Homo sapiens: one gene and its partner. The protein of the gene in region 2 purifies or fractionates together with the protein of the main gene of each other region. This does not show direct contact. Each region holds a gene or a part of one and is shown on either strand. Other genes may lie near its edges. The genes, in order: CYP24A1 and ZNF254.

Region 1 (15,898 bases), on a different chromosome or scaffold from region 2:
CACACACACACACACACGTCTTAACTCTGAATGCTGAGCTTGCCTAGAAGCAGTAACATCCCAGTAGCAACAAGCACCAGGAGCCAAAATCTCGATTTCTAAATGTTCTTTTCTACTGAAACAAATTAGGACTTCTTGAAGAAACAGATGATTCCACGGTGGGGCAGGTAAAGTACAAGATCAGCCTGGAATATTTTATTGTTCCAGAAAGCAGGAAGTGCTCAAAAATGGTAACAACATGTCAAAACAAACAAACAAACAAAAAACCAGCAACAATGCACAGGAACCTATTTAAAGAGGCTCCCATTAATCAAATCTGGGGCAATCTGAATATCAAAATGAATAATGACAGTGTAAAAATTATAACCCATTCAAAAACATAAGAATCTGCAAGCTCGCACTGACATAAATAGACATAAATTATAAATAATTAATTCTTCCTGACAGCACGACTGTAATCTCAGCACTTTGGGAGGCCGATGTGGGCAGATCACAAGGTCGAGAGATCGAGACCATCCTGGCCAACATGGTGAAACTCCCTACATAGCTCACCACAATAGCAAGTTTATATGCATTTCTGTGATTATTTGATTGACATTTCCTCCCCTTGTTCTTCCCCATCCTCCGTAGTAGGATACAGATGGCGTAAGAGCAGGGACATGTTTATTTTGGTTTGCCCCTGTACCCATGATGCTTGGCTTACAGATCTTCATAGGCACTCATTAAATATTTCCTTTTACCTGGTTGTCCTAGTTGTAATGTTTACAACCACCATTTATGGTAACCAATAAAGCTAGGCAAATTTCCCAGGACTCGTGCCAAGTTGTAAATCCTCCTCTCCAAGGTCTTCTAGATTACCAGGTCATACAGTGCCTGTCACAGGGTAGATGCTTAGTGACTCAGGGCAATTGTGATTGTCATCAGTAACACACGCTGCTCAGTGCTCGTAGCTTATTATGACACCTTTCTGGTCCCTATTCTGTCTCCCTCAAGGCTGACTCCATATTTTAGCTTTAACAAAATTTCCAGGGATATTTGTGGGAAACCAGTACACAATAATATATATGGAATTCAGTCCAGTTGGCTTTTGTGATGTCCAAATAATTTTTTTGAGAGAGAGGAAGGGAAAAATAAAAAGAGAGAAAGGAAAAAAAAATGAAGGAGGAAATGGAGAGATCAAAGGAATTCCTCAACGTTTGTAGCAGGGATTCTACAGACCAGGTACTGCTCCCCCGGAGAGTAGGAATTATTTATGGGGAAATTACTTACACAGGGGATGGAGTGAGGTTGCATTATATGCACACTTAACCCAGGCACATCCAACCATCCATGCTTGGAGTGGAAAGATGACTATGGAAGGATGTAGCCCAGGTGATTCCAACACCCTCACTCAATGAGAACAGCAAGATGAGAAACGAGATCCACCTCTTGCCTTATTTCTCATGCACATCTCAAAATGTGAGCTCCTGATGCCCTTGGTGTGGTTCTAGCATCTGAGGAAGTGCATTTTTCATGTGACATGGCCCCTAGACATAAGCCAACTACTTTAGGTTGTTTTCACCCACTAGAGCAGAAAGCTTTTCCAACACCGGAAGGAATCCTCTGTGGATTAAAACCCATTTATGCCTAGTGTTCCATTAGTGGAACGCTAAGCTTCTGGGAGTTATTGAAATCCCACTGCTTAAGGTCATCGCTAAGGTCTGATTTTTCACAAAAAAATTTGCAACCTCTGGCATAAATGGGTTAATGAGGGATGAAACTATGTGTTTACGGTATACTTTACAGATAATTGAAGGGATGTAAAGTTTACCGTAACTCTAAGAAATTTTTACTCTGGTTGACTTTCAAACCTAAATCCCCAGTGCGCTTTCTCGCTAATGAAACACCTGTGAGTTCCATACCCCTTAAACTTCATGCTGATATAGCAGGAAAAATCCTAGATTTTATTTTATTTTTTGATATTGAATTTCACTTTTTTGCCCAGGCTGAAGTGAAGTGGCATGATCTCGGCTCTCTGTAACCTCCGCCCCCCAGGTTCAAGCAATTCTCCTGCCTCAGCCTCCCAAGTAGCTGGGATTATAAGCACCTGCCACCATGCCCAGCTAATTTTTAGTACAGATGGGGTTTTGCCATGTTGGCCAGGCTGGTCTCGAACCCCTGACCTCAGGTGATCCATCGGCCTCGGCCTCCCAAAGTGCTGGAATTACAGGCATGAGCCACCGTGCCCAGCCAAAAAACCCCTAGATTTTAAAGTTGTTAACTTCACCAGGTTTTAATTCTAGAGGAGTCATTTCCCAACTGTGTGACATGGGGAGTTTACTTAACCTCTCTGAGCCTTAGCTATTCAATGGACGTTAACATATGCGATGCACAAGTGTTCTCATGAAGATCAGAAAATTTGAAATGTACGTAGCTCGGTGCTGAGCATAGAGCAGGGATGGTGTCCAAATTCTTATTTCCTCAATCAGAGAGGCAAAAGTCAAACAACTCCCTTTACAGGGGCAGAACCTGTCAAAAGAAATGTGCTGGGCCCAAATGGGAAAAATGAGACAATTACACCATCTGAAAATACAAACACGATCAGTTTTACCTACTTGTGGAGCAGAACCTAAGAGACTTATGGGAAATTAATTTTTTTTTAAGTGAAAGCAAGTTTATTAGGAAAGTAAAGGAATAAAGAATAGCTACTCCACAGGAAGAACAGTAGCATGGGCTGCTTGATTGAGTAGACTTGTAGTTATTTCTTGATGATATGCTAAACAAGGGGTGGGCTATTCATGAGTTTTCCAGGAAACAGGTGGGCAATTCCCGGAACTGAGGGTTCCTCCCCCTTTTAGACCATATAGGGGAACTTCCTGATGTTGCCATGGCATTTGTAAACTGTCCTGGCGCTGGTGGGAGTGCCTTTTAGCATGTTAATACAGGAAATTAATTTACTTTTCTGTTTAGAGTCTTCTTGGGACTGATGGAGAATCACCAGGACAATTACAAAATACAGTGGACTCCATCAACCCAATGGTCTAATCATGGGAGGTTTTACCCTAAATACTGGAAACTACAAATCCACAGATTAAATTTGATACATTTGGTTTGGTTCAAATCTAGTTGCCAAATAGTGATTTTTCTAATCCCATCAATTTTGTATACTTTTATTTAATTAATTTATTTTTTGAGACAGAGTCCTGCTCTGTCGCCAGGCTGGAGTGCAGTGGCATGATCTCGGCTCACTGCAACCTCCGCCTCCTGGGTTCAAGCAATTCTCCTGCCTCAGGAGAATCTGCCTTTCTCCTCCCAAGTAGCTGGGACTACAGGCGCGTGCCACCACGCCCAGCTAATTTTTTGTATTTTTAGTAGAGATGAGCAGTACATGACGTGCATCCCACAGGTCCGGGAACCAATCTATCTTTGTTGGAATCCTGGCTTCCCTACATACTAACTGTGATTCTAAGGAGATTACTGAGCACCTCTGTGCCTCAGTTTCCCCAGGTGTGAAATGGGAAGAATGATCACATCTACTTACAGGGCAGTGACAAGGATTTGTGAATTCATATGTAGCAAGTGCACAGAGGAGAGACTGGGGCAGCAAGATCAGTCAATAAATATTATTATCATCATGACCACATTGGCCATGTCAGTGTCGGCTCCAGGCAACCTGCTCAGGGAGGTGAGGGGCAGCAGACGTGGCCCTTGCTCCACCCTGTGCTCCTCACACCCATTTGCCGGTCTTTGTGCCCTTCGCCCAGGTTTTTCATGCTTTGCTCCTCATGGCTGGCACCTGCAGCCTTCTTCAAAGACTACCTTCTGGCTACTATAGCCATTTTGCCTGGACATGTAAAGTCTAGAAGTATCTTAGAGTTTATACCCCAAGGTGCAGCCTGAACTGAAGGAGTGTGGAAGCCCTGCTCCCTGGGCACAAGGAGAACAAACTGAGCTGCAATGTACACTCCAGAGCTCCCAGAGATCAGGCTGAGGCTGGAACTTCACTCAAAACCACACGCTTGTTTGGCTTCTTTCCCTTCCTCATCCTGCTGTCCCCACAGTCGCACAGGTCTCCTTGGGAATCACAACCCTAATGAATCCCGGTGCTGGGGACAGCCCCTGTGGGATCTAAGTCATCAAGGAAGATTTCCTTCAGGAAATGAAAGCTGGGTGGACGTAGATGGTGCGTAGGAGAAGAACAGGCAGAGAAAGAGCATGCCGGGAGGGAGACGGTGGGAAGAACCCTCTTGCTAGCATTTAAGGAACAGCAGAAACTGGCAGAAGCCACTGTGGCCTGGTTCCAGAGGCCTCTGGGGGTGGATGATGTGGGCTGAGGCCTGGGGGATCAGTGGGACCTCAGTTGATAGGGCCTGGAAGTGTGGATTGCAGAATCGGATCTTTACGTAAGAGCAATGGGAAGCCCCAGAGGCAGGATGAGGCATGATCAGGTTTGGGTTTGAAAAGACCAGTAAGGCAAGTGTGCAAAGAACAGAGGGGAAGGAAGCAAGAGAGGACTGAGATCAGCTGGGAGCTCCTGCAGAGACTAGAGATATTAGTGGTCCAGGCAAGAGATTGTCAGTATTGCTCCCAGCCACGGAAAATTTGGCTGTTGTAGGTCTTTCATTGTGAAATGTAAACTTATTCTTGGGAATTAAGTATTCAAACAGTGAATGTGGTAGGCAGGGGCTGAAATGGTTCGTAACCTCTACCTGACTGCCAAGTGCCAGCCTCCCTTTCATGTCATGAAAGATACAAGAGAGAACAGGCTCCCAGGCCGTTCTACCCCCCTTTCAATCACACAACCAGTGTGTGACTGATTGTGTGATTGGAAAGGGGGTAGAGATAGAAGTAACTGGACTTGGGAAATATTTAAGCAGCAACAAAATGGAAAGTTATTTTGCAATTACAAGAATAAACTTTCAGTAAAACTGCTATTAAAGTCTAGATTTATCTAAGGGTAAATTTTGTGATATAGGGCTTGTAGGCCATATGAGAAAATTTTCTACCAGTAAAATAAAGTTTGAATTTGTTTTTATTTTGTTGTAACAAAGGCAATAAAGAGGGGAAGTCTCTCAAATATTTAAAAACTTTTATTTTTACTTTCAGAGAATTTGAAGGTATACAGATGAAATCTGACAAGACGTGAATTTATAATTCTAAAAATAATTTCACAGCAGAGAGAAAGCATATACCTAGATATGTACATATTTATTACAATATAAAGACATAAATGTATATTTCTGAAATATTCTAAAAATATAATGTAGGAAGAAATATTTATCAAATACACAGAATTATATACAGTATGCATTTAGGAAAAGCAGTAGTAAAAATATGCACAAATAAACCATCTGTAAACACAATTTTTAAGTCTTATAAGTATTGCATGCATTTCTGTGCATTTTACATTTATGAAATCATATTTTTCCTAGGAGTTCAAATCACAAAACAAATGTTATATAACAGATCTCTAACTTTTGCATGCTTTACACTTGTCCCATTTAATAGACAGAAAAATTATGGCATGGGAAATCATTTTATAATATTAAAGTCACACTGAATGTTTTTAAGCTGTGACTAAACTTTGAAACATTGCCCTGCACCACAGATCCTAAATCAAGTACTGCAAATATTAAAAAAATGACTGAGGCAAATTACCATTAGAACCCACACACACATACACGGACACACACACACAGACACACACACACATGCATGTCTGTGCTTCATATGCACATACACAATTTAAAAATTATTGCTTCATCTTTACCCTAATGCCATAAAGGAATCACATTTAAAAAATAAACAATTTTAAGGTCCTCTAACAAAATAATGCCCCAGTGAATCACTAGTCTTATAAGTTGTTTGACTTCGTTAAAGTCCTTTTAAAAATAGAGGTGTTCTCTAGTTTCCCAATAATGTTTTTATTTCAATGCAGGAAGAACGCAATTTCATGGGAGGCCTGATAACTTTAACCATCATTTAGCTTGGCTTACATTATTAAGCAGGGACATTTTCCTAAGTAGTACATTAAGCAGAGCTACAGTAAATGGATTGTCAGTATTACTCCCAGCCCCAGAAAATTTAGCTGTTGTAGGTCATTCATTGTGAAATGTAAACTTATTCTTGGGAATTAAAGATTCAAACAGTGAATGTGGTAGGCAGGGCCTGAAACGGTTTGTAACCTCTACCTGACTGACAAGTGCCAGCCTCCCTTTCATGTCATGGAAGATGCAAGACAGAACAGGCTCCCAGGCCATTCTAAGCACCTGAAGATGGTGCTGACACAGGTGAAGTGTAAACCAGCAGTGAACCCTGTAGAATGCCTTGGATCCCAGCACTCAGTCCGCTTCCCTGAGTTGGATATGATGTTAGCAAATACCACCATCTAGAAAGACAGTACAGCTTCTGGAACAATTTTGCAGAAGAAAAAGTATCAACACCTGGGCCTAAATATTCTTTATAAGCTGTTGTATGGTGTGGTGTTTGAAGTTTGCTTTCCGGTAACGTAGAAGCCATAAGCACCATTCTTGCAGAAAAGTTGAAATGGCTGTTTTGGTCTTGGTAAAAAAAAAAAAAAAAAAAAAAAAAAAAAAAAAAAAAAAAAAAAGGTATACCCTAATTGTATATCAAAGAAGTGTATTTAAACAAGACAAATTATTAGCCAAAGAAAAAATGCTAAAACTTAAAAGGTGTGGCTTACTGTGATAAACATGCATGCTCTTTGCTGAAGGCTGGGGTGTCACAATGCAGCTAGAATACTTTCCTTACCCTACTTGATTCAGTTCTGTTGGTTGGGATGCTCAGAATTTGACAAATTTCATAATAGCATCAGACACTTGGTGGAGGAATAATAATGTATTCATTTGGGCCTTGTTCAGAAATTTCATCTGTAATTGCATGTTTCTCTAAATAATCTACCAATAAGCAAATGCTCCTTAACTTGCCATTGGCAAACAGCATTTTTTTCTAGGAAAATCCTAGAAGGTGCTGCTAAAAGAACACAATGATAGAATCCGGGTTTAAACACCGACATGTCAGCCTATAAAGCCATATGTTACAAATGTCTTATTTCCACCACCAGGGGTGGTGGCTCACACTTGCAATCCCAGCACTTTGGGAGGCCGAGGCGGGTGGATCACGAGGTCAGGAGTTCAAGACCAGTCTGGCCAACATAATGAAACCCCATCTCTACTAAAAATACAAAAAATTAGCTGGGTGTGGTGGTGTGCACCTGCCTGTAATCCCAGCTACTCGGGAGGCTGAGGCAGAAGAATCGCATGAACCCAGGAGGCGGAGGTTGCAGTGAGCTGAGATTGCACCATTGCACTCCAGCCCAGGTGACAGTGTGAGACACTGTCTCAAAAAAAAAAAAAAAAAAAAAAATTAGGGCCTTCTTAGGCTAACTTTTGATCACTTCAATAGTTTTGAATTCATTGTAATGTCTATTAGGAGAACATAACTAGACTTACTAACTCTTAATTTCATTAAGGAAATTATTACTCAGGACGAGGCCAACATATGCTATTTGGCTTATGTTATTTAAAGGAAATAACTCAGTAGTATTGAAATAAATAGCACCTGGTTGGTATATGGACATGGCAAAAGTTGTGGAGGGAACATGAGAACTCCTCTATTGTCAGAAAAAGTATTGAATGGCATACTGCAGAAAAAATATTCTATTGTGTTCAATACAGGCTGATAAATATATACATTTATATTACATGTGGTTGCATAACACAAACCTAGACCCTAGGGCTAAATACAGTCCACCGCTTGTTTTTTATAAAATTTATCAGAACACAGCCTTTGTAGGCAGAATAACAGATCTCCTAAAATGTGAATGCCCTAATCCCTGGAACACGTGAATATACTACCTTATATGAAAAAAAGGGCTTTCCAGATGAAATTAAATTTATGAACTTGGAGATGGGAGACATGATCCTGGATAATATCTTGTCAGACAGAAGCAATGTAAGAAGAAAGAGAGATTCAAAGTGTGAGAGGGACTCAACCAACCATTGTTACTGGCTTTCAGTTGGGGAAGGTTTCATGAGCCAAGGAATATGGGAAATCTCTCAAAGTTGAGGATCGCCTTCAGCTGACAGCAGCAAAAAAATAAAGACTTCAGTCCTGTAACCATGAAGAACTAAATTCTGCCAACAACCAAACTAGCAAGAGAATAGATCCTCCTCTAGAACCTCCAGAAAGAGCCCCGACAACACGATAATTTTAGCCTGGAAGAGCCTCATCAGACTTCTGACCTATAGAACTGTAAGATAATAGATGTGTGTCGTGTAACTCACTAAGTTTTAGTAATTTGCGGTGGCAGCAATAGAAAGCTAGGACATCAGCTCACTCATTAGTTTACAAATTGCCTGTGGCTGCTTTCATGTTCCAAGGTAGTATTAAGAGGATGTGACAAAGACTGTATGGTCCATAAAACCTAAAATATTTGCCAACTGGCCCTTTACGGAAAAAGTTTGCCAACCCTTACTATTCACATGCAAAAACCATGAACAGCTGCTAGCATTTACTGAACACTTAATTGATGCCAGGCTCAGGAATAACTACTTGGTATTCATATTAAATTTTTGTGATACACTCTCTTTGGGTCATCATTTTACAAATGAAAAAAAAAAAGGAAGTAGAGAGTTTAGGGAACTGCTCAAGGTCACCCAGCAAGTTAGAGGTGAGCTGGGATTCAAACCCCAGTCTGGCTGACTTCCCAGCATAGCTCATCCCTCGTCATTCTCACTACCTTGCAGAGGATAATGAACCGCCTAGATGCTCACCTGAGGCGTATTATCGCTGGCAAAACGCGATGGGGAGTTCCCGGCTGGGCACCAGGGTGCCTGAGTGTAGCATCTCAACAGGCTCATTGTCTGTGGCCTGGATGTCGTATTTGCGGACAATCTGTAATGCACACGCACACAAAAACAGAATTACCCCTCTCTTCTTCTGCCTTGTGAAACAGCACAGAACATAATTGCAGAAACCGGTAAAGGTTTTACCCAACAAAGAGCCAAATGCAGTTGAAGCTCTGCTAATCGGCGACCAATGCACATTCTTTTTCCAACGCCAAATGGAAGATGCGCAAAAGGATTAATTTTTTCCTTCTCCTGAAGCCAACGTTCAGGTCTAAACTGACTTGAATCTTCAAAATTGTCTTCACTGGATCCCAACACCTGGGTATTTAGCATGAGCACTGTCTAAACACATGCAGAGACACATAGTATTTAAAATAACCAGAAGAGACCTTTGAATGGCAAAATTGACACAAGTTGTCACCTTACAAATCAAAAGCCAAATCCACAAATTTATAATAATGATGGTTGCCAACATGCGCTGAGTGCTTAAAATGTGCCAGGTAATAAATAGGTAAAGGGCTTTAGAATTGTGCACCATACTCACAACCACCCTGCGCAGCAGATTCTGTTATTAAACCCCTTTTACAGACGAAGTTGAGGCTCACAGAGATTATGTAACTCACTCAAGACAACACAGATAAAAGATGAAACTGAATGCAGGTCTCTGTCTCCATAGCCGTGAATTCTAATTCTATACTATGCAACATGTCAACTATTCTCTACCATCTCTGCATTCCCAAAATGAATATTTTCCAGTACAAAGTCTAGGGAGATCTGGTGAATATTTGCAAAGTGTATCTTCCAAGGTTTTGTAAGGTATAGAATATACAAATTCTACTTACTCCTTTGGGTAAAGCATATTCACCCAGAACTGTTGCCTTGTCAAGAGTCCGAGTTGTAAATGGTACACTCGGCGTAAGCCTGAAAAGATAAAATCAAAGATGTAAAGGTGAGCACAGTCTAAGTTCTCTCTGAAGTGTCAATGGGAATGCAGATTGGATTAAATAAATGCTGCCCAAGTGCATACTCAAAGAGGCAGCATGATCACAGATCTTCCTAAAGAAGTTGTTTTTTTCTTCTCAATAATTGTATCTCTTGTTCCTCTCATCTTCTTGAGTTAGTTAAAACCCCAGTGCAAGGCTGTTTAGTAAACTGTTAACGTTGGTTTTCCCCCTTCATTCCAGACTAAAATGTGTATGTTTCCGTGCTAGCCCTTGAAGCGTGATGTTTGTTCTATGTTTCTCCAATCTACTCTTCACAAAGTTGACAGTATCCTTCTAATCCTAAAATGTTGTGAGTTTTGTTTTCCCAAAAGGATGTAAAAAGAATTTCCAAAAAATGTTTTATACCAGAGGCTCAAAAGCAAAGCTTTCTCTGTGTCCTATTATATAATAATATAGCTCTTTTGTGAGCCTCCATCTCATAACCTTCAATCATGCCCCTATCTTAATTAGTGCTTACAGCGTTCATTAGAGTAGCAAGATTATTGAATTAAAGGGGAGGGCACTGGCTTTCCAAGATTTAATAGAATTTGCCCAAATGATTTAGGAAATGAGTGCCAGAAAAGAAATATGGCTCCAAAGATTTTTTTGCAGTGTGATAATTGTTTCTAATTAGCTAGGGGAAGCCGCCCATGAGTAGGGGACCACTTGTTTTGTGTTTACGAGAACAGTGTTCTAACACATTTATATTGGCTCAGAGATAGGCTCTTACCTCATAGATTCTTTCAGACAGGCTTTTAAATACGGCATATTCCTCAAATCTTCTGCCCGTGGCACCTGATTCTCAGGTAATACACTTTGAATTTCCTTAAGAAGCTTTTGTTGCACTTGGGGATTACGGGATAAATTGTAGAGAATCCACATTAGACTGTTTGCTGTCTGCAAGCCAAATGGACATAAACTTGAGTTTTTGTAAATAACTGCATTAAACCACTATTAGCTGAAAAAAAGGTGATGCCCACCACCTTATTCTGCAAATGTATCAGTGAAGCTCTTTCACGCGTCCTTATAGCTACGCCTTTAGACAAATCCAATATATAAAAAAGCAGACTTATTTCATAAAACATATCAATTAAGGATATATTTTAAATTATTTACTGAGGGAATCAAAGTATAATCCTTTAATCAGCTGCTTTAGAACATTTAAATACAGTTTTTTTTTTTTTTTGAGATGGAGTCTCACTCTGTCACCCAGACTGGAGTGCAGTGGCACTATCTCGGCTCACTGCAACCTCCACCTCCTGGGTTCAAGCGATTCTCCTGCCTCAGCCTCCTGAGTAGCTGGGACTACAGGCATCCACCACCATGCCTGGCTAATTTTTGTATTTTTAGTAGAGATGGGGTTTCACCATGTTGGCTAGGCTGGTCTTAGACTCTTGACCTCAGGTGATCTGCCTGCCTCCAAAAGTGCTGGGATTACAGGCATGAGCCAACTGTGCCTGACCTAAAATACAGTTTGACGCAATAATTGTTCGAACACAAATGAGTACATGTAAAATTGGTGAAATGAGAATATTAGTGGGTTAAATCAATGCCAATTTTCAGATTGTGACAACGTTTTCTCGTTAGACAGGACATTACTATTAGTGGAAAACTGGGTAACGGATGCAAGGGATCCCTTTCTATTTTTTCTTAGAACTGAATGTGAATCTACAATGATCTCAAAATAAACATTTAATTAAAAGTTGCTTGATATAAAAAACATTCATATAAAAATGGAGTAAACAGAGAGGGATGGTGATCCTCAGGGTGTTGCTAATGAGAGGCTTTAAGAGAATGTTATAGTGGAAATGGACAATAAATGGCATTTCTGAAATTTAAAAGTTCCTTTGGCCACACCCTAAAAAGTCACCACAAAAATAAACAGGCACTACCTACACTGAGGGTTACAACCACATGTAAACAGCCCTCATACGAGGGTGCCAACACCAAAAATAAGAAATTCAAACATTGAGCTGAGTACTCCAGCTACAGTTTCTGACAAAGGCCCACACCCTTTTAAGTGGCATCTTTTATTTCCTCTGCACAGGCAATGACTAGAGAAAAAATATTGGTGGAAACAGCCAATGTAGCTTTAAGCTACATAATATTCACCACTAGTAGTCATATGTATTTATTTTTTAGGCCGTACTTTGCTAATTTAAGCCAAATATTTCCTGAAAATGATCATTGTGTCCACCTCCGCAGACATGAAGACGCTGTTGCTAAGTGCCATGTGCCACTCACACAAATGAGCACCAAGTGCAAGACCATTCAGAGATGATGGTTATTTTATTATTTTTGGAAGAAGATGCCTCCAAGGCAGTCTTCTTCATGTCAGAGGACTGGCAGCCTCGGCTGCAAATAAACTGTAGATGCCATTATTATAAGAGTCTAATTTACAAAACAGGAAGAGGGTGTAGCCATCAAATTAGATACACTTTCAAATGGTTCTGATTTTCCAAATGTGACTTTCAGAATAGCCAGGACCAAAAAAGAAACAGATTTAACCATATCAGTGAGTCCCTCACCGCAAGTACCAAATAGAGTTTCCAAAGGGCAGATGACTGTAGCTTTTACCAAAGCCACGTAAGGCAGTCTGAGCCTGTAGGGAAAACTGCAGGGGCTAAGCTGCAGCAGCTGATTTGAGGGGAAGTGGCCTGGAAAACCTCAGGGGCACAAACTATCCTTGATTGACCTCCATGGAACAGACCAAGCTCATTGACTGGCCTGCTGTACCCACTCTCTTGGCTAAGTCTATTCTCCATCCACCAGCCAGAGCCCACTTTTAAAAACATAAATGATCAGGTGATTCCCTTGCTTAAAATGCTGCAAGAGCTTCCCATCACAGGTGCAATCAAATCTAATGCCTTACCCAGGCTGGGCTCACAAGGCTCTGGCTAACATGGCCCATCCAATTCTCCAGTCTCAGCTCTGACCACATTTACTAGTTCTGTAGCTCCATCCCTCTTTCTGCCCCAGGGCCTTTGCATGGGCCGTTTCCTCTACCTGCAGCGCTCTTCCACGAGGTCTTTCTGTGGCTGGCTCTTCTCATTATTCCAGAGTCAGCTCCAGTACTGCTTTCTCAGAGAGGGCTTCCCTTTAATCATCTCCATCTCTCTATATTACACCATCCTGATGGCGTCCTCCACAATCCACACCACTATCTAAAGTGACCACATTTGTTTGTTTACATGGCTACTGTCTGTCTTCCCCACTTGCATACAAGTTCCATGAGAGTGGGAACCCTTGTCTCTGGTTCATGGTGGTCTCTCAAGAACCTGGAACAGTCCCAGGCATACAGTAGGCACTCAATAGTTCCTGAATTCCTTCATTTATTCAACAAGTATCTATCAGCCGCTACTAGATGCCAAGTACTGTTCTATGTCCTGGAAACACAGCAGTGGACAACTCTAAGCCATTGCCCTCAGAGAGGTCACGTTCCAGTTGAAAAAATAAAAGAATAATGGGTGACACTGTACTTTGATCACTGGAAGGAGCCACCCAGGGTAAGCAGTTCAACAGGAAAGTGAGCGAGGATGGATTCCCACTTTCAACCGCCTTGTGGAGCAGGAGGAGAAATGAGAACCTCGCTATCTCCTGATAGAGAAAACCCTACCTTTACTTCAGGCAAGAAACAGCACAGAAGGGGAAGCACATGGAAAATAAACAACTGCTTTACATTTTGCTTAGAGACTTTAAGGTGCATGAAATGTTGGACTTAGGAGGAGGTTAGCGTGCGCCACTCCCATCACAGCTCGAACTAGTATCCAAGTCAATTAAACCTACCTGAATGCCTATGGCAGGATTTGTTTGGGGTTGGTCTCACTTAGTATCTGCTATCTCCTAGGGAGTATCGGCCACATCAGAGACAGAATTTTGGTCTTTACAATGAGCTGTTTTGCTTCAGTTAAAATCCACTTGTCCCAGACTCTTTGGGACTTTGTTTACAATTCTAAGCAGATAAAAATATTATTGGCTTGAAAGAGAGTATGCCTTTTTTTTTTTTTTTTTTTTTTTTTTTTTTTTTTACAGTAAGTAACAGCCACAGTTAGGCACTTTGGGGTAACATGTGCAACTGAACAAAATACTTCCAATTTTGAAAAATCTGGATTCTGTATCTTGCCAGGGCAGAGAACTTTACTGCTCCTGAACTCCCGTAGCAGTTTGCATGGACATCATGGCACTCATCACATCCTACTCTGGCTTTTTGTCACTGGGGCACATGAAGTCTCCTCCTACCCAGAGTTTAAGCACAGAAGCCCGTGCATGGAGGCACCGTGGCGTCTGGTATGAGGCCGTGCGCTGAGGCACCGTGGCATAGATGCTGTGCGCGGAGGCACCGTGGCATCTAGTATGAGACTTTTCATTTTTGTGGAGTTGATGCTAGTGAATCCCAGTGAAATGAATGAGATGAATTACTATTTAAAATCTGTCATCTAAAAATGGTACAGACCGTTCATTTAGCAAACTCAAATCCAGCCCACCCTTACCGTTTCCACCGCAGCCAGCTGGAGCTCTGTGACAGCAGCATACAATTCTTTCTTTGAAAGCCGATTCTGGTGATAAATGTCACAAAGGAAATCTGCACTAGGCTGCTGAGAATACTTCTCTAACCGGTTGTCGATACAAGCTTTGACTATTAGAGCAGAGAAGAAAGAGAGGAAGTCAGCTGAAAATTGGGATGAGGAAAATCACAGAAGAAAACCTCAGTCCAAACTCCTTCTTGCAATATCTAAATAGTCTTTTCAGGAACACTGACAATTTGCTACACACACTAATTATATTATTGCCTTCTTGTCAAGTCGGCAAGGATTTTTCAATACCGACATGAGCAAGGCTTCTCAAACTTTAATGTGGATAGGAGTCACCTAGGCATCTTCTCAAAATGCAGAATCTGAATCAGGGCTTGGGTAGGCCTGGAACTCTGCATTCCTAATAAGCTTCTAGGTGATGCTGATGCCACTGGGCTGCAGGTCATAGTTTTGAGTAGTAAGAGTTTAGATCTTGGGAGAAAAAAGTGTAAAAGAAGGTAGGATTTGGGTTCACTTTCAGAATCCAACTTGGACCCAGATATTACTAAGCACACATACCCCACATACATACGCACAAGTAGAGTGTCCATCCATGTTGACAATAATGGTAAAAATTTCTAATATTTATAACATAAAATCTAGGCGTGTACCTCCCTCACTATTAAGCAAACAACCACCAGGCTCATTATATGGTAATAATCATGCTGATCACATATGGCACAGCAGTTAGAGTTCGAGTCCTGGAAGCTCCTTGTCTGGCTTCAAACCTTGGCTTTGCCATCACCTAGCATGCAATCTTGGGAACGTTGGCTAACTTCTATGTGTCTCAGGTACCCCTCTCAGGGCTAATAAAAGGACCTACCTTATAGGTGTGTTGTGAGGATTAACTAAATGTGTAAGTGAACAATGCCTAGCATCAAATATTCCCCTTCGTCATGTGGCAGAAATAGATCTAGTCCACGGAGATACTGTGATATGCCAGGTTTTTATGTTAACTGTAATCTGTAGTAGACCCAGAAACAGTTACATTGAGGTAGGTTCTCTTATTATTATTATTAATTATTAGTCCATTTTAGAGACAAGGCAACTGAGGATGAAAAGGTGATTGCACATTTGGCCAAGCCACCACAACCAGTGACAGAGCTGAACTTGAACTCAGGAGTCCCTGACTCTATAAATTTTACTTTTTTATTTTGAGATGGAGTCTCACTCTGCCTCCCAAGATGGAGTGCAGTGGCTCAGTCTTGGCTCACTGCAACCTCCGCCTCCCAGGTTCAAGCAATTCTCCTGCCTCAGCCTCCTGAGTAGCTGGGATTACAGGTGCCCACCACCACGCCCAGCTAATTTTTGTATTTGTAGTAGAGACTGGGTTTCACCGTGTTGACCGGGCTGATCTCAAACTCCTGGCCTCAAGTGATCTGCTCGCCTGGGCCACCCAAAGTGCTGGGATTACAGGGGTGAGCCACTGCACCTGGCCAGATTTTACTTTTAACCACTCTTAATTCCCAAAGAAGACTACAGAAAGCTTGTTACT
Region 2 (16,093 bases):
GGGGAAGAAGGCCTGTGAGAGGAGGTGTCCCCTTTTCTCTGTCTGGTTTGGCTCTATAATAAGACAAGTTTGGTCATTTCTCTGAAGATGCAGGAAAATTCATAGGTGAGTTTGAGAAGTTAACTCTGACCTACAGTTTAACATGGCAGGATCTGTACATTTTGTTGTCTCTGTGTTATACAGTGGAAGAAAAACAATGCATTTTGGGGACAGCTAGGACTCATGCAGATGAGGTATTGGCTTGCAACCCGAACCATAATATATATCAGACAGGAGGTATAGCAGTTCCAGATCAAGATCTAGAGTGGAACTATCAAAGGGGGTGTGAGGACTTGGAAGAAGAGATCATATGGTCACTTGTTTGTTGAAAGAGATGAAGAAATGTATGAAAAAACCTGTTAACAATGAAAAGGTTAAGCAACTTTCTCAGGGCAAAGATGACAATCCAGCTTTGTTTTAATAGTGTTTAGTTGAGGCAATCAGAAAATATACTAACACTGATCTTGCCTCAATGAAAAGATAGACCCTTCTGGGAGTACATTTTATAACCCAGTCTGCCCCTGATATCCATAGAAAACTACTAAAAGCAGCTATGGGTCCCCAAACTTCTCTGGAACAGCTTTGGATATGGCATTTTTAGTTTTTAATAACAGGGACAAAGCGGAGGTAGCGGAAAGAGGAAGAAGGACCTCCCACAAGTTGCAGGTCTTGGTTGCAACCTTAAGCTAACCTCCCACATGGGGTTGCCCTCCTGGGTCTTGGGTTGAACAAGGGAAGCTGAAAGGTGGGAAGCCTAAACCTGGGTGTCCGAGTCACTGTGCCTTGGGCATAAATCAGGTTGCACACTGTAAGAAAACTGACCACTGGAAGAGGGTTTGTCCAGTGTTCTGAAGAGAGCCATCAGCACGTGAACTAATGATGGGTAAAACAGCCAGGCAAGCACCCAAGAGTGACGGGGACTGAGACCTTCCACCACGGTTTCCATCAGACAACTAGCCATATATCTGGAAAAGCCTCAGTATTTTTTGCCATGGCAGTTAAGAATATGAAGTTTCACCAGGTGCGGTGGCTCACACCTGTAATCCTAGCACTTTGGAAGGCCGAGGTGGGTGGATGACTTGAGGTCAGGAGTTCAAGACTAGTCTGGCCAACATGGTGAAACCCCATCTCTACTAAAAATACAAAAAATTAGCCAGAAATTGCTTGAACCTGAGAGGCGGAGGTTGCAGTGAGCTGAGATCGTGCCACTGCACTCCAGCCTGGGAAACAGAGACTCCGTCTCAAAAAAAAAAAAAAAAAAAGGAAGCTAGATGAGTTGCGAGTTGCCTCATGCCTGTAATCCCAGCACTTTGGGAGGCTGAGGTGGGTGGTCGGGAGTTCGAGACCAGCCTGAGCAACAAGGAGAAACCCCATCTCTAGTAAAAATACAAAATTAGCTGGGCGTGGTGGCACATGCTTGTAATCCCAGCTACTCAGGAGGCTTAGGCAAGAGATTCACATAAACCCGGGAGGCCGAAGTTGCAGTGAGCTGAGATCATGCCACTGCACTCCAGCCTGGGCGACAGAGTGAGACTCCTTCTCAAAAAAAAAAAAAAAAGAATATTAACTTTCTTCTGGACTGCTTACTCTGTTTTGACCCATTATAATGGGTCTGTTTCACCCCCAAACTGTATGGTCACGGGGATAGATTGACAAGCCCATAGATGCCATTTTACATAATCTCTAAGCTGTTTTTCAGTGACTTCGGTTTTCTTACATAACTTCCTTATCATGCCCGGATGCCTCAGGGAAGTCGTAGCAATTTCTCTTTCAGTAGATAAAGCCAATAAACTGGCTTTAGAACAACATTCTGAGGTTTAAGCCCACACCAAGTATGAGGAGTTCTATAAGCCAAAAGACACCAGTGGATGACAGGGGACACTTATTGAAATAGCAGACATTTTGCTAGACACTCCAATTAACCTGATATGAGGTGCTAATCAATAAAAAATAGTTAAACATTTGCATGACTCTACTCATTTGGGAATAAATTCCCTGTTTAATATCTCGGCTTTTTATAGAAAAATAATTACTTAAAAGAGTAAACCAGGTAACCCAGGCCTGTGAACTATATGCCTGGAACAACCCAAATGACCAATGTTTACCTCCTCCTTTAGTAAGGCCTGTTCAGCATAGAGGAGCATACCCTGGTGAAGACTGGCAAATAGACTATACTCAGATGCCCCCGTGTAAAGGGTTTAAATATTGATTAGTATTCATTGACACCTTTACCGTTTGGATTGAGGCTTTTCCTACCAAGTCTGAAAAGGCAATCAAGGTTTCTAAACTACTAAAAGAAATAATTCCGATGGGTACAGTATCTCACGCCTGTAATCCCTGCACATTGGGAGGCCAAGGCAGGTGGATCACCTGAGGTCAGGAGTTCGAGACCAGCCTGGCTAACATGGCGAAACCCCGTCTCTACTAAAAATACAAAAATTAGCTGGGTGTGGTGGTGTGCACCTGTAGTCCTAGCTACTCTGGAGGATGAGGCATGAGAATCACTTGAACCTTGGAGGCAGAGGTTGCAGTGAACCAAGATTGTGCCATTGCACTCCAGCCTGGGCAACAAGAGTGAAACTCTGCCTCAAAAGAAAAAAAAAAAAAGATAATATCGAGTCTCGCAAAATATAGTAATTAAGAAGATTCTTTATCACAAACCCTTGTGGCAGAGCACATCTCCTCATAGGTAAAAACATTGTAACTATGGTAAATGTGTTCCTCAATAGTAAATTAATTATTAAACTTATTCAAAATTATTTTATTTAATTTTTCAGAACAATGCTTATGTTTTGTATAGCTAATTGCTGTAATTCTTTAACAAAAACTGGGCCAGACACAGTGGGTCATGCCTGTAATCCCAGCACTTTGGGAGGCCGAGGCGGGCGGATCACGAGGTCAGGAGATCGAGACCGTCCTGGCTAACACGGTGCAACCCCATCTATACTAAAAAAAAAAAAAAAAAATTAGCCAGGCGTGGTGGCGGGTGCCTGTAGTCCCAGCTACTTGGGAGGCTGAGGCAGAAGAATCTCTTGAACCTGGGAGGCGGAGGTTGCAGTGAGCCCAGATCGCGCCAATGCACTCCAGTCTGGGCAACAGAGTGAGATTCCATCTCAAAAAAACAAAAAAAAAAAACCCAAAAAACTATTTGATTGATGTCTCATTACAAAATGTATAAAAGCAAGCTTTGCCCCGACCACCTTGGGCACATGTTCTCAGAACCTCCTGAGAGCTGTGTCACAGGCCATTGTCACTCATATATGGCTCAGAATCAATCTCTTCAATTTTTTTTTAAACCATCTGTGACAAACCCACAGCAAACATTAAACTGAACAGGAAAAAGTTGGAAACATTTTCTCTGAGAAATGGAACAAGACAATAGTGCCCATTTTCATCACTTCTATTCAACATAGTACTTGGAAGTCCCAGCCAGAGCAATTAGAGAAAAGAAATAAGTAGCGAGCCTCCAAGTTGGTAAAGAGGTAGTCAAATTGTCACTGTTCACTGATGTTACAATCATATAATTAGGAAACCCTAAATACTCATAAAAAAGCATCTAGATCTGATCAATTCAGTAAAGTTTTAGGATACAAAATTAATGTGCACATATTAGTGGCATTGGTATACACCAACAGTGACCAAACTGATATTTAAATCAAGAACTCAACCCCTTTTAAAGCAGCTGCAAAAAAATAATACTAATAATTAGGATTATCCCTAATGAAGGCCATGAAAGATCTCTACAAGAAAAACTGTAAAATATGTCTGAAAGGTATCATAGATGACACATACAAATAAAAACACATCCCATGCTTATAGATGGGTAGGGTTAGTATTGTAAAAATCATATTACCAAAAGCAAGCTACAAATTCAATACAATTCCTATGAAAATAACATCATAATTTCCTCACATAACTAAAAAACTCTAAAATTCATATGAAACAAAAAAGAACCTGCATAGACAAAGCAAGACTAAGCAAAACAAAAATAAACTCAAGATGGATCAAAAATGTTAAGACCTGAAACTATAAAAATTGTAGAAGGTAATACTGGAAAAACTCTTCTAGACATTGGCTTTGGCAAAGCGTAGATGACCAAGAACCCAAAAGCACATGCAACATGAAACAAAGACAGATGAGACTTAATTAATTCTCAAAAGAAGATATACAAATGGCCAACTAACGTAGATAAAAATGCTCAACATTACTAATGATTAATGATCAGGAAAATGCAAATCAAAACCACAATGTGATACCACCTTATTCCTGCAAAAATGACCATAATTAAAACATCAAAAATAATGCATGTTCGCATGGTTTTGGTGAAAAGGGAATACTTTTACATTGCTGGTGGGAATGTATACTAGTACAACACTATGGAAAACAGTATGGAGATTCATTAAAAAATTAAAAGTAGAACTACCGTTTGATTCAGCAATTCCACTACTGGGTATCTACATGGTGAAAAATAAGTCATTATATGAGTAAGATACTTGCACATGCATGTTTATAGCAGCACAATTTGCAATTGCAAAAGAATGGAAGCAGCCTAATTAATGCCCATCAACTAATGAGTGGAAAAGGAAAATGTGGCATATACCACATTTTCTTTATATATATATAATATATATAAATAATATATAATATATTTATAATAATATATATACACCAATGAATGCTACTCAATCATAACAAGGAATAAAATAATAGCACTTGCAGCAACCTCAATGGAGTTGAAGAACATTATTCTAAGTGAAGTAACTAAAAAATGAAAAAAACAAATATTGTATGTTCTCACTTATAAGTGGGAACTAAGCTATGAGAATGCAATGGCATAAGAATTATATAATGGACTGTGGGTACTCAGTGGCAAGGGTAGGAGAAGAGTGACGGATAAAAGACTACATATTGGGTACAGTGCACACTGCTTGGGAGATGGGTGCTCCTAAATATTAGAAATCACTACAAAAGAACTTATCCATGTATCCAAACATCTTCTGTACCTTAAAAACTTTGGAAATAATAATAATAATAATAAACAAAAAATAATCCCAAACCCCGTAAGTTTAACTTTCTATGCTTTGGCTGTTTTTGGTTTATTTTTTATTTTTTAGAAAGGGTCTCACTCTGTCACCCAGAATAGAGTGCAGTGGCTTAATCAGGGCTCATTGCAGCCTCGACCTCCTTGGTTCAGGCAATCCTCCTCCCTCCGCCTCCTGAACAGCTGGTACTAAAGGTACAGGCCACCATGCTCAGTTAACTTTTGTATTTTTTTAGATACATGTTTTTGCCATGTTGCCCAGGCTGATCTCAAATTCCTGGGCTTAAGCAGTCTTCATTTCTTGGCCTCCCAAAGTGCTGGGATTATAAACATGAGCCATCATGAGTGACCACAATCTTTTTTTTTTTTTTTTTTGAGACAGAGCCTCACTCTGTCACCCAGGCTGGAGTGCAGTGACCTGATCTTGGCTCACTTCAACCTCCTCCTGTCAGGTTCAAGCGATTCTCCTGCCTCAGCCTCTGAGTAGCTGGGACTACAGGCACGCGCCACCACGCCCAGCTAATTTTTGTATTTAATAGTGGAGATGGGGGTTTCACCATATTGGCCAGGCTGGTCTTGAACTCCTGACCTCGTGATCCACCCACCTCGGCCTCCCAAAGTGCTGGGACTACAGGCGTGAGCCACTGCACCCAGCCCAGAATTTTTTTTAACATGATATAGAAAAGCTAACTATATTTAGATCTGTTACTTAACAGAAAATTTGAATAAACGTCTTTTATTAAAAAACATAAAATTTTTTATCTACAAATATTGATACAAAACAGTTCAAAATTACTTCCTAGGGGTTTCACTAAAAATTAGTTTGTTAAGGGTATATATATATATATATAAAAACTAAGATTTCTAGGTGTAAAACAATTTTTTTATAGAGAGTGTATAAACAAAGGCCAGGCGCAGTGGGTCACGTCTGTAATCCCAACACCCAACACTTTGGGAGGCCAAGGCAGGTGGATCATTTCGAGCTTAGGAGTTTGAGACCAGCCTGAACAGCAAGGCAAATTCCAGTCCCTACTTAAAATACAGAAATAAACCGGGCATGATGGCTTACACCTGTAGTCCCAGCTACTCCAGAGGCTGAGGCTGGAGAATCGCTTGAACTTGGGAGGCGGAGGTTGCAGTGAGCCAAGATTGCGCCACTGCACTTCAGCCTGGGCGAAAGAGCAAGCCTCTCCTGGAAATAAAAAAACAGTGTATAAACAAAAGCAAAATATGCTTTTGATGAAGAAAGTTAGAAACATTTTGTCTACTTTGAAATTATTTAAAGGTTGTTTCAAATTGAAAATATAAAAATAATGTAGATTAAAATACAACATAAAAATTTAAAAAATGGCCAGGCACGATGGCTCACGCCTGTAATCCCAGTAATTTGGGAGGCTGAGGCGGGTGGATTACCTGAGGCCAAGAGTTCGTGACCAGCCTGGCAACATAGTGAAACCCCGTCTCTACTAAAAATGCAAAAAATTAGCCAGGTTTGGTGATGCACGCCTGTAATCCCAGCTACTCGGGAGGCTGAGGCAGGAGAATCGCTTGAACCCAGGAGGCAGAGGTTGCAGTTAGCCAAGATGGCGCCACTGTACTCCAGCTTGGGCGACAGAGCTAGACTTCGTCTAGACAAAAAATAAAAAATAAAAAAAAGTATAAGAGATCATAAAATATGTATAAAAATCTAGAATGGTCAAAAAGACAAATTTGATGGACTTTATTTTTGTTATTTTATTTTATTTTTTGAGACAAAGTCTCGCTCTGTCGCCCAGGCTAGGGTGCAGTGGCAGGATCTTGACTCACTGCAACCTCAGCCCCCCGGGTTCAAGGAATTCTGCTGCCTCAGCCACCCGAGAAGCTGGGGTTATAGGCGTGCGCCACCATGCCCAGCTAATTTTTTTTTCTTTTATTTTTTTGAGACGGAATTTTACTCTTGTTGTCCAGGCTGGAGTGTAATGACGCGATCCACGCTCACTGCAGCCTCCACCTCCCAGGTTCAAGCAGTTCTCCTGCCTCAGCCTCCCGAGAAGCTGGTATTACAGGCACGTGCCACTACGCCCAGCTAATTTTGTATTTTTAGTAGAGATGAGGTTTCACCATGATAGTCAGGCTGGTCTCCAACACATGACCTAATGTGATCCGCCCGCCTTGGCCATCGAAAGTGCTGGGATTACAGGCGTGAGCCACCGCGCCCAGCTGATGGATTTACTTATAACGGTTTATCAAATTAGCTTTAGTGCTGATAATACATTATTACTAAAGTAAAAGTTGATTTTCTCTTGAACAAAAATTATATGTATTATTAATATACATAAAATATGTTTGTTCACATTTTGAATACATTGAAAAAGAGAGAGAGCAAAAAAGATATAGAATTTTCCCATGCTCTGGGGTGGGCCTGGCTCAGCTCAGGGAGGAAGCCCTGCCCGATAAGGCTGCAGCTTAGGCTGTCACTCTTTCTTCAGCCTAGGGTGTGATCACATCTTCTATCACTCAGGGTCTGAGTAGGCGGGGCCTTAAACGTTATCCAACTAGGGACGTTGGGCTGGGAACTGTCCAATCAGGCACACAGCTGGACTGGACAAAGCGGCTTCCGGGATATGGCGGGGCCTTTGTCTCTCGCTGTCGCCGGAGTCCCAGGTCTGTCTTCACTGCTCTGTGTCCTCTGCTCCTAGAGGCCCAGCCTCTGTGGCGCTGTTACCAGCAGGTATTGGAGATCCACAGCTAAGATGCCAGGACCCCCTAGAAGCCTAGAAATGGTGAGAATGCCAGTCCGACATCCCGAGAGAGGGGAGGGGGCTGGTTGGAACTGGTGGGAAGCGGCTGTGGCGGGACTCAGGCCTCCCCCCAGTCAGCTCCACAATCTGCGCCCAGCTCGACCTCAGTCCCCTTCAGAAATAAGATGGCGGCTGCGCTGACAGCCAGACCCCCAGGAGTCCTGTTTCTTCCCTGCGCAGTGACTGTGCCCTGTCCTGGAGCCCTCTCTGGGCAGCTGTGGACCCGCAGCCCCGCGTCTCTCCCAGATTGTTCAGGGACCCGGGGAGGGTCGTCAGGGGAGAATCCTGACTCGGGTTGCGGGTTCATGAACGGGAAGAGCTTTGGTCTGTGGGGTTCCCAGGCCCTCTTTTTTCCCATTAAAAATTTATGGGCGTCACTGCAAAAATATTAAATACTTTAATAAAAGAATGATTCAAAAATTGTACCACACCCAGCTGTGGTTTGTACTTTTGTGGTCCATGGAAGGGGCCTGAAGAAAAGATTGTTACAAGGTTCATGATAAAGAAAACCAAATTCAATAATTGGCTAGGTACAGCAATCTAGGTTGTCGTTTTTTTTTTTTTTTTTTCTTTTTTTTGAGACAGAGTCTCACTTTTTTGCTCAGGCTGGAGTGCAGTGGTGTGATCTCGACTCACTGCAACCTCCGCCTCTTGGGTTCAAGCGATTCTCCTGCCTCAGCCTCCCTAGTAGCTGGGACTACAGGCGCCCGCCACCACAATTTTTTTATTTTTAGTAGAGACGGGGTTTTACCATGTTGGCCAGGCTGGTCTCCAACTCCTGACCTCAGGTGATCCACCCACCTTGGCCTCCGAAAGTGCTAGGATTACAGGCGTGAGCCACCGTGCCCAGCCTCGTTTCTTAATTTTTACATTTAAGGTGGGAATATCCTGGTTATGTAATCAGAGCTTAATTGTCAGCTTATTCTTGGTTAAGCAAGAATTTTGTTTCCGCTAATGTAGTAATTTACCAAAAAATGCTCTTGAGTTTAGATTTTTTTTTTAGAAGTAGAAATCCGGGGACTAGAGCCACCTCAATCTAATTGCCTGCCACTTAATTATTTTCACACTCCACAGGGGACTGCTTTTTTCCTGAAATTTTCACATGTATCCCAAGCAGGGCCTCAAGTCCACCCCTCATCCCCTATTCCTCCAGCCTAACTCTGGCTTGCAGGAAAATACTAAATTTCCCGTTTTGTCTGACATTCCCAAATGCCAATGTCCCCTCCCTAATTCACTTTATCATCTATTTGTCCTTTAGGGTAGATTTTGATACCTGTTTTAATTTTTATTTATTTATTTATTTTAATTTTTGAGACAGAGGCTTGCTCGGTCACCCCGGATGGAGTGCAGTGGTGCAGTGGTGTGATTTAGGCTCACTGCAACCTCTGCCTTATGGGATCAAATGATTCTCTTGTCTCAGTCGCCCAAGTAGCTGGAATTATAGGCGCCCGCCCCCACGCCTGGCTAATTTTTGTATTTTTAGTAGAGACCGGGCTTCACTATGTTGTCCAGGCTGGTTTCAAACTCCTAGCCTCAAGCGATCCGCCTGCATCAGCCTCCCCAAGAGCTGGTATTACAGACGTGAGCCATCTCGCCTGGCCAATTAATCTTTTTTTTTTTTTTTTTTTTTTTTTTTTTGAGACAGAGTTTCACTCTTGTTGCCCAGGCTGGAGTGCAATGGCACGATCTCGGCTCACCGCAACCTCCGCCTCCCAGGTTTAAGCGATTCTCCTGCCTCAGCCTCCCTAGTAACTGGGATTATAGGCATGTGCCACCATGCCTGGCTAATTTTGTGTTTTTAGTAAAGACAGGGTTTCTCCATGTTGGTCAGGCTGGTCTCAAACTCCCGACCTCGGGTGATACGCCCGCCTTGGCCTCCGAAAGTGCTGGGATTACAGGCGTGAGCCACTGCACCCGGCCAATTAATCATTTTTTGACAAAGCATTTGATGGCACATTTAAAAAGGTTTGTTTTCTTTTTGTAAATATTTCCTATGAGAAGAAAGCAAAGAATAATCTCCTGACACTGTATTGTAAAATATCTCTGCGTTTTTTTTTCTTCTATCTTCCCTAGTCACAGATATCTTATCAGAATGTTTTTGGGTCAAGTTTTCCTTTTGGAAACTATAGTGTGATGTGTCTTCAGTCACCATTCGGTTTTCTTGGACCTGGGTTTCAGTACTGTATTGGGATAAACGAAGATACCCACCATGGCTATGTCTGCTTAGAGTGTCTAGTAAATATCAGCTTCTGGGTCATATTCTCTCATAGGAAAATCTGAGGTATTGAGTGTAGCGTCCCAAGTGCGCAGGTGGATGCCCTGAGTCTAAAAGGCATTTCCTAGTGCACTTTTTTTTTTAAAGCTAATTTTATGAGACATTAATATTGTCTTCACCCAACCCAGCTTTCATTTCTTAAAGACACATTGCTGGTCAGTCAATCAGATACCAGTATTGAGGAGAAAACAAATAATTTCTGCCTCCTGGTTTCCTTTAGAGAACAGAAAAATAGTAAAAAATTTCTAGAAAACAAAACAAAACAAAACAAAAACGAGGGCCAGGCATGGTGGCTCATGCCTGTAATCCCTACACTTTGGGAGGCCAAGGAGGGTGGATCACGAAGTCAGGAGTTCGAGACCAGCTGGCCAACATGGTGAAACCCCATCTCTACTAAAAATACGAAAAAAAAAAAAAAAAAGCTGGGTGTAGTGGTACAGGCCTGTAATCGCAGCTACTCAGGAGGCTAAGGCAGGAGAATCAGTTGAACCTCAGAGGCGGAGGTTGCAGTGAGTGGATATCACGCCACTGCACTCCAGCCTGGGCGACAGAGTGAGACTCCATTTCAAAAACAAAAACAAACCGCAAAAAACTGACCCCAGTGAGATGGTGTAAGAACTTGCAGAGTAAAATGCGCCTGAGACACTCACTGGGGCATAGTTCAGAGTCTCCTGAGAGGGGGTTATTGAGCACTTTAGTGAGTAGGATGGGGTGGGACAGTCTCTCAAGTAATTGGATGGCCTGACTTGACACATGATTAAGACATATCTGTGTCTTGAAAAGGTTTTTTCACTTATTTTGACCTAAGGCTTGTTTTCGTTGTCTTGAGACAGTTTCCCTCTGTCACCCAGGCTGGAGCGCAGTGGTACCATCTCGGTCCACTGCAACCTCCAGATCTTGAGTTCAGGTGATTCTCATGCCTCAGCCTCCCAAGTAGCTGGGACTACAGGTGTGCACCACCACACTCAGCTAGTTTCTGTAGTTTTAGTAGAGACAGAGTTTCACCATGTTAGCTAGGCTGTTCTCAAACTTCTGGCCTCAAGTGACTCACCTGCCTGAGCCTTCCAAAGTGCTGAGATTACAGGCGTGAGCCATTGTGCCCAGCTCACCTCGGTTTTTTAACTGTGTATTGCATTTTATTAGTAGAGCTTGAAAGGTAAGAAAATATTTGCAAAGGGCATAAAAGAGGTGAGTTTCAAAAACATTAATATCTAATAATATATTTTATTTGTTGAACATTTTCATTTACCTTTTTCTTTCTCAGAGTGAGTTTAGGAAGTTTCTCGGACATGTTTTTTTTTATGGAGGAGTGATTTTTTTTTTTTTTTTTTTTTTTGAGACAGAGTCTCACTCTGTCGCCCAGGCTGGAGTGCAGTGGCGCCACTTTGGCTCACTGCAACTTCTGCCTCCCGGGTTCGAGCAATTCTCCTGCCTCAGCCTCCTGCGTAGCTGGGATTTCAGGCACACACCACCACACCTAGCTAATTTTTGTATTTTTAGTAGAGACAGGGTTTCACCATGTTAGGCTGGTCTTGAACTCCTGACCTCGGGTGATCCGCCCGCCTGGGCCTCCCAAAGTGCTGGGATTACAGGCATCAACCACCGTGCTTGGCCTATGGCTGAGTGATTTCAAACAGAATTCCATCTAGCTTTTAGAATGGTAGCTACCAAGGAAAAAAATAAAGAAAAAAAAAAAAAAATCTCTCTTCAATTTCAGCTGTAGACAATGAATACATTTCCACAAAACAATGTGATAGATAATTGATGAGTTAAATAGATTCCTGAAAACTTCAATTCCTTTTTTTAGCAGGGTAAATCCTTGGTAGTGAACATCTTTGTTCTATATCCTGTGTTTTTTTGTGTGTTTGATTGTTTTTTGAGATAAAGAGTTGCACTGCGACACCCAGGCTGGAGTGCAATGGTGCAATCTTAGCTCACTGCAACCTCCAATTCCCAGGTTCAAGTGATTCTCCTTCCTCAGCCTCCGGAGTAGCTGAGACTGCAGGCCTGTGCCACCACACCTGGCTAGTTTTTGTATTTTTAGTAGAGATGGGGTTTCACCATGTTGGCCAGGCTGGTCTCGAACTCCTGACCTCAAGTGATCTGCCCACCTCAGCCTCCCATAGTGCTGGGATTACAGGTGTGAGCCACTGCGCCCAGCCCTATATCCTGTTATTTTGATTTTTGAGTTTAATGCTAAATTTTATGTGATGAAACTTGGTACCTCCTAGAAGTGTTCCTATGTGATTAATTTTTTTTTTTTTTTTGAGATGGAGTCTCGCTCTGTTGGCCAAGCTGGAGTGCAGAGGCGCAATCTCAGCTCACTGCAAGCTCTGTCTCCCGGGTTCACGCCGTTCTCAGCCTCTCGAGCAGCTGGAACTACAGGTGCCCGCTACCACGCCCAGCTAATTTTTTGTATTTTTAGTAGAAACAGGATTTCACCATGTTGGCCAGGATGGTCTCGATCTCTTGACCTCGTGATCCACCCACCTCGGCCTCCCAAAGTGCTGGGATTACAGGCATGAGCCACTGTGCCTGGCCTTTTTTTTTTTTTTAAATGGAATTTTGATGTTGTTGCCCTGAGTGGAGTGCAGTGGGCGATCTCGGCTCACCTCAACCTACACCTCCTGGGTTCAAGCAATTCTCCTGCTTCAGCCTCTCGAATAGCTGGGATTACAGGCACCCACCACCACCATGCCCAGCTAATTTTTGTATTTTTAGTAGAGATGGGGTTTTATCATGTTGGCCAGGCTGGTCTTGAACTCCTGACCTCAGGTGATCCACCCTCCCCCCCGGCCTCCCAAAGTGCTGGGATTACAGGTGTGAGCCATCACGCTGGGCCAAGCAATCCTCTTGTACCTCAGCCTTCCACGTACCTGGGACTACAGGCATGCACCACCATACCTAGGTAATTTTTGTTTTTGTATTTTTTTAGAGATGGGATTTTTCCATGTTGCTCAGGCTGGTCTCAAACTCCTGAGCTCAGGCAATCCACCTGCCTTGGCCTCTCAGAGTGCTGGGATTACAGGCATGAGCCATTGTGCCTGATCATACCATATTTTCTTTATTCAGTCTACCATTGATAGGCATTCAAGTCGATTCCATGTCTTTGCTATTGTGAATAGTGCTGTAGTGAACACCCTTGTGCATGTGTGTTTATGACAGAATAATTTATATTTCTTTGGGTATATACCCAATTATTAGGTTGCTTGATGAAATGGTAATTCTGTTTTTAGTTCTGTGAGAAATTGCCACACTGCTTTTTACAATGGTTGAATTAATGTACACTTTAACAGCAGTGTATAAGCGTTCCCTTTTCTCTGCAACCTTGACATCATCTATTTTTTTGCTTTTTAATAGCCGTTCTCACTGGCATGAGATTGTATCTCGTGGTTTTTCTTTGCATTTCTCCAATAATTATTGATAGGCATTTTATTATATGTGTGTTAGCCACATGTTTGTCTTCTTTTGAAAAGCATCTTTTTCAAGTTTTTTGTCTGCTTTTTAGTGAGGTCTTTTTTTTCTTGTAAACTTAAGATTTTTATGAATTCTGGACATTAGACCTTTGTTAGAAGCATAGTTTGCAAATATTTCCTATTATTCTGTTGGTTCTCTGTTTTCTGTGTTGATAGTTTCCTTTGCTGTGAAGAAGCTCTTTAGTTTAATTAGGTCCAATTTGTCAATTTTTGGTTTTTTTGCAGTTGCTTTTTGTATCTTCAATTATGAATTCTCTGCTAGATTCTATGTCTAGAATGACATTTCCTAAGTTATCTTCCAGGGTTTTTTATAATGTTAAAATAAACATTTCAGTCTTTAATCTTGAGTTGATTTTTGTATATGGTGTAATAAAGGGGTCCAGTTTCAATCTTCTACATAGTGCTTGCTAGTTATTCCACCACCATTTATTACATAGGGAATTGGTTCCACATTTCTATTGTCACCTTTGTTAAAGATCAGATGGTTGTAGGTGAGTGACATTATTTCTGGACTGTCTATTCTGTTGCATTGGTCTATGAGTTTGTTTTTGTACCAGTTCCATGTTGCTTTGTTTACTGCAGCTCTGTAGTATAATTTGAAGACAGGTAATGTAATGCCTTCAGCTTTGCTGTTTTTGCTTGTGATTACCTTGGCTATTCAGACTCTTTGGTTTTATATGAATTTTACAATAATTTTTTTTTTTAGTTCTTTTAAAAATATTTTGGTCATTTGATTAGAATAGCATTAAATCTGTAAATTTTGGGGGGCAGTATGATCATTTTTAGGATATTGATCTTTTCTATTTATGAGCATAAAGTTGTTTTCCATTTGTGCCATTTCTGACTTCTTTAAGCATTGTTTTGCAATTCTTATAGAGATCTTTCACCTTCCTGGTATTCGTAGATATTTTATTCTTTTTGTGGCAGTTGTGAAGGGATTGTGTTTATGATTCGTATTTGGCTTGGATGTTGTTGATTTACAGGGACGCTACTAATTTTTGTACACTTACTTTGTATCCTGAAATGATACTGCAGTTGTTTGTAAGTTAAAGAGCTTTTCTATGAAGACTATATGGTTTTCCAGATGGAGAATTATGTTGTCTGCAAACAGGGATAGTTTGACTTCCTCTCTTCCTGTTTAAATGCCTTTTATTTATTTTTATTTTTATTTTTTTGAGATGGAGTCTTGCTCTTCGCCCAGGCTGGAGTGAAGTGGCAGTCTTGGCTCACCGCAAACTCCACCTCCCAGGTTCAAGTGATTCTCTTGCCTCAGCCTCCTGAGTAGCTGGGATTACAGGCATCCGCCACTGCGCCTGGTTAATTTTTGTATTTTTAGTAGAGGTGGGGTTTCACCATGTTGGCCAGGCTGGTCTCGAACTTCTGATCTCGTGAGCCACCCACCTTGGCCTCCCAAAGTGCTGGGATTACAGGCGTGAGTCACCTTACCTGGCCAAATGCCTTTTATTTTTATCTTTTGCCTAATTACTCTGACAAGTACTTCCAATTTTATGTTGAATAGTAGTGTTGAGAGAAGGCATCTTTGCCTTGTGCCAGTTTCCAAAGAAGAATGCTTCGGGTTTTTTTTTTCTTTTCTTTTTGAGATAGAGTCTCACTTTGTCTCCCAGGCTGGAGTGCAGTGGCACAATCTCGGCGCTCTGCAGCCTCCACCTTCTGGGTTCAAGTGATTCTCTTTGCTCAGCCTCTCAAGTAGCTGGGATTACAGGCACCTGCCATCACACCTGGCTAATTTTTATATTTTTAGTGGAGACAGGGTTTTGCCATGTTAGCCAGGTTGATCTCAAAATCCTGACCTCAGGGGATCCACCTGCCTTGGCCTCCCAAGTTGCTGGAATTACAGGCATGAGCCACTGCACCCGTCCACTTCCAGGTTTTGTCCATTCAGTATGTTGGCTGATGGTTTGTCATATAGATAACTTATTATTTTAAAGTATGTACCTTCAATGGCTAGGTTGTTGAGGGTTTTTAACATGAAAGATGTTAAATTTTATCAAAAGCTTTTTCTGCATCTATTGTGGTAATCTTGTGGTTTCTGTCTAGTTTTGTTTATATGATGAATCACATTTATTGATTTGTGTATGTTGAACCAACCTTACATTCCCAGAATAAATTCTACTTGATCATACTGGGTTAGCTTTTTGATATGCTGCTGGATTTGGTTTGTCAGTATTTTGTTGAAGATTTTTGCATCAATGTTCAAAGGTATTGGCCTGAATTTTTTTTTGTTTGTTTTATCTTTGCCAGGTTTTGGTATCAGAATAGTGCTGTTCTTATATAATGAGTTGAAAACAAGTTACTTTTTCTTAATTGCTTAAAATAGTTTCTGTAGAAATAATAATCAGCACTTTTTTGTACATCTGATAGAATTCAGCTGTGAATCTGTCTGGTCCTTGGCTTTGTTTGGTTGGTAGGCTATTTATTACTAATTCAATTTTTGAGCTTCTTATTCATCTATTTAGGGGTT

What was found.
Region 1: the proteins of ZNF254 (region 2) and CYP24A1 purify together in Homo sapiens (affinity purification with mass spectrometry; 2 studies listed by BioGRID and IntAct, with this or other methods). This does not show direct contact.

Annotation. Positions count from the first base shown.
Region 1 is NC_000020.11:54,148,395-54,164,292, forward strand, and holds the end of CYP24A1 (1,25-dihydroxyvitamin D(3) 24-hydroxylase, mitochondrial isoform 1 precursor), read right to left. Parts: intron 14,469-15,898; coding exon 14,323-14,468; intron 10,730-14,322; coding exon 10,563-10,729; intron 9,771-10,562; coding exon 9,692-9,770; intron 9,192-9,691; coding exon 8,994-9,191; intron 8,896-8,993; coding exon 8,785-8,895; 3' UTR 8,775-8,784; exon of another isoform or gene 6,368-8,774; 3' UTR 5,052-6,367; downstream 1-5,051.
Region 2 is NC_000019.10:24,079,496-24,095,588, forward strand, and holds the start of ZNF254 (zinc finger protein 254), read left to right. Parts: upstream 1-7,691; 5' UTR 7,692-7,812; coding exon 7,813-7,842; intron 7,843-12,405; exon of another isoform or gene 12,406-12,520; intron 12,521-16,093. UniProt on the Homo sapiens protein: May be involved in transcriptional regulation.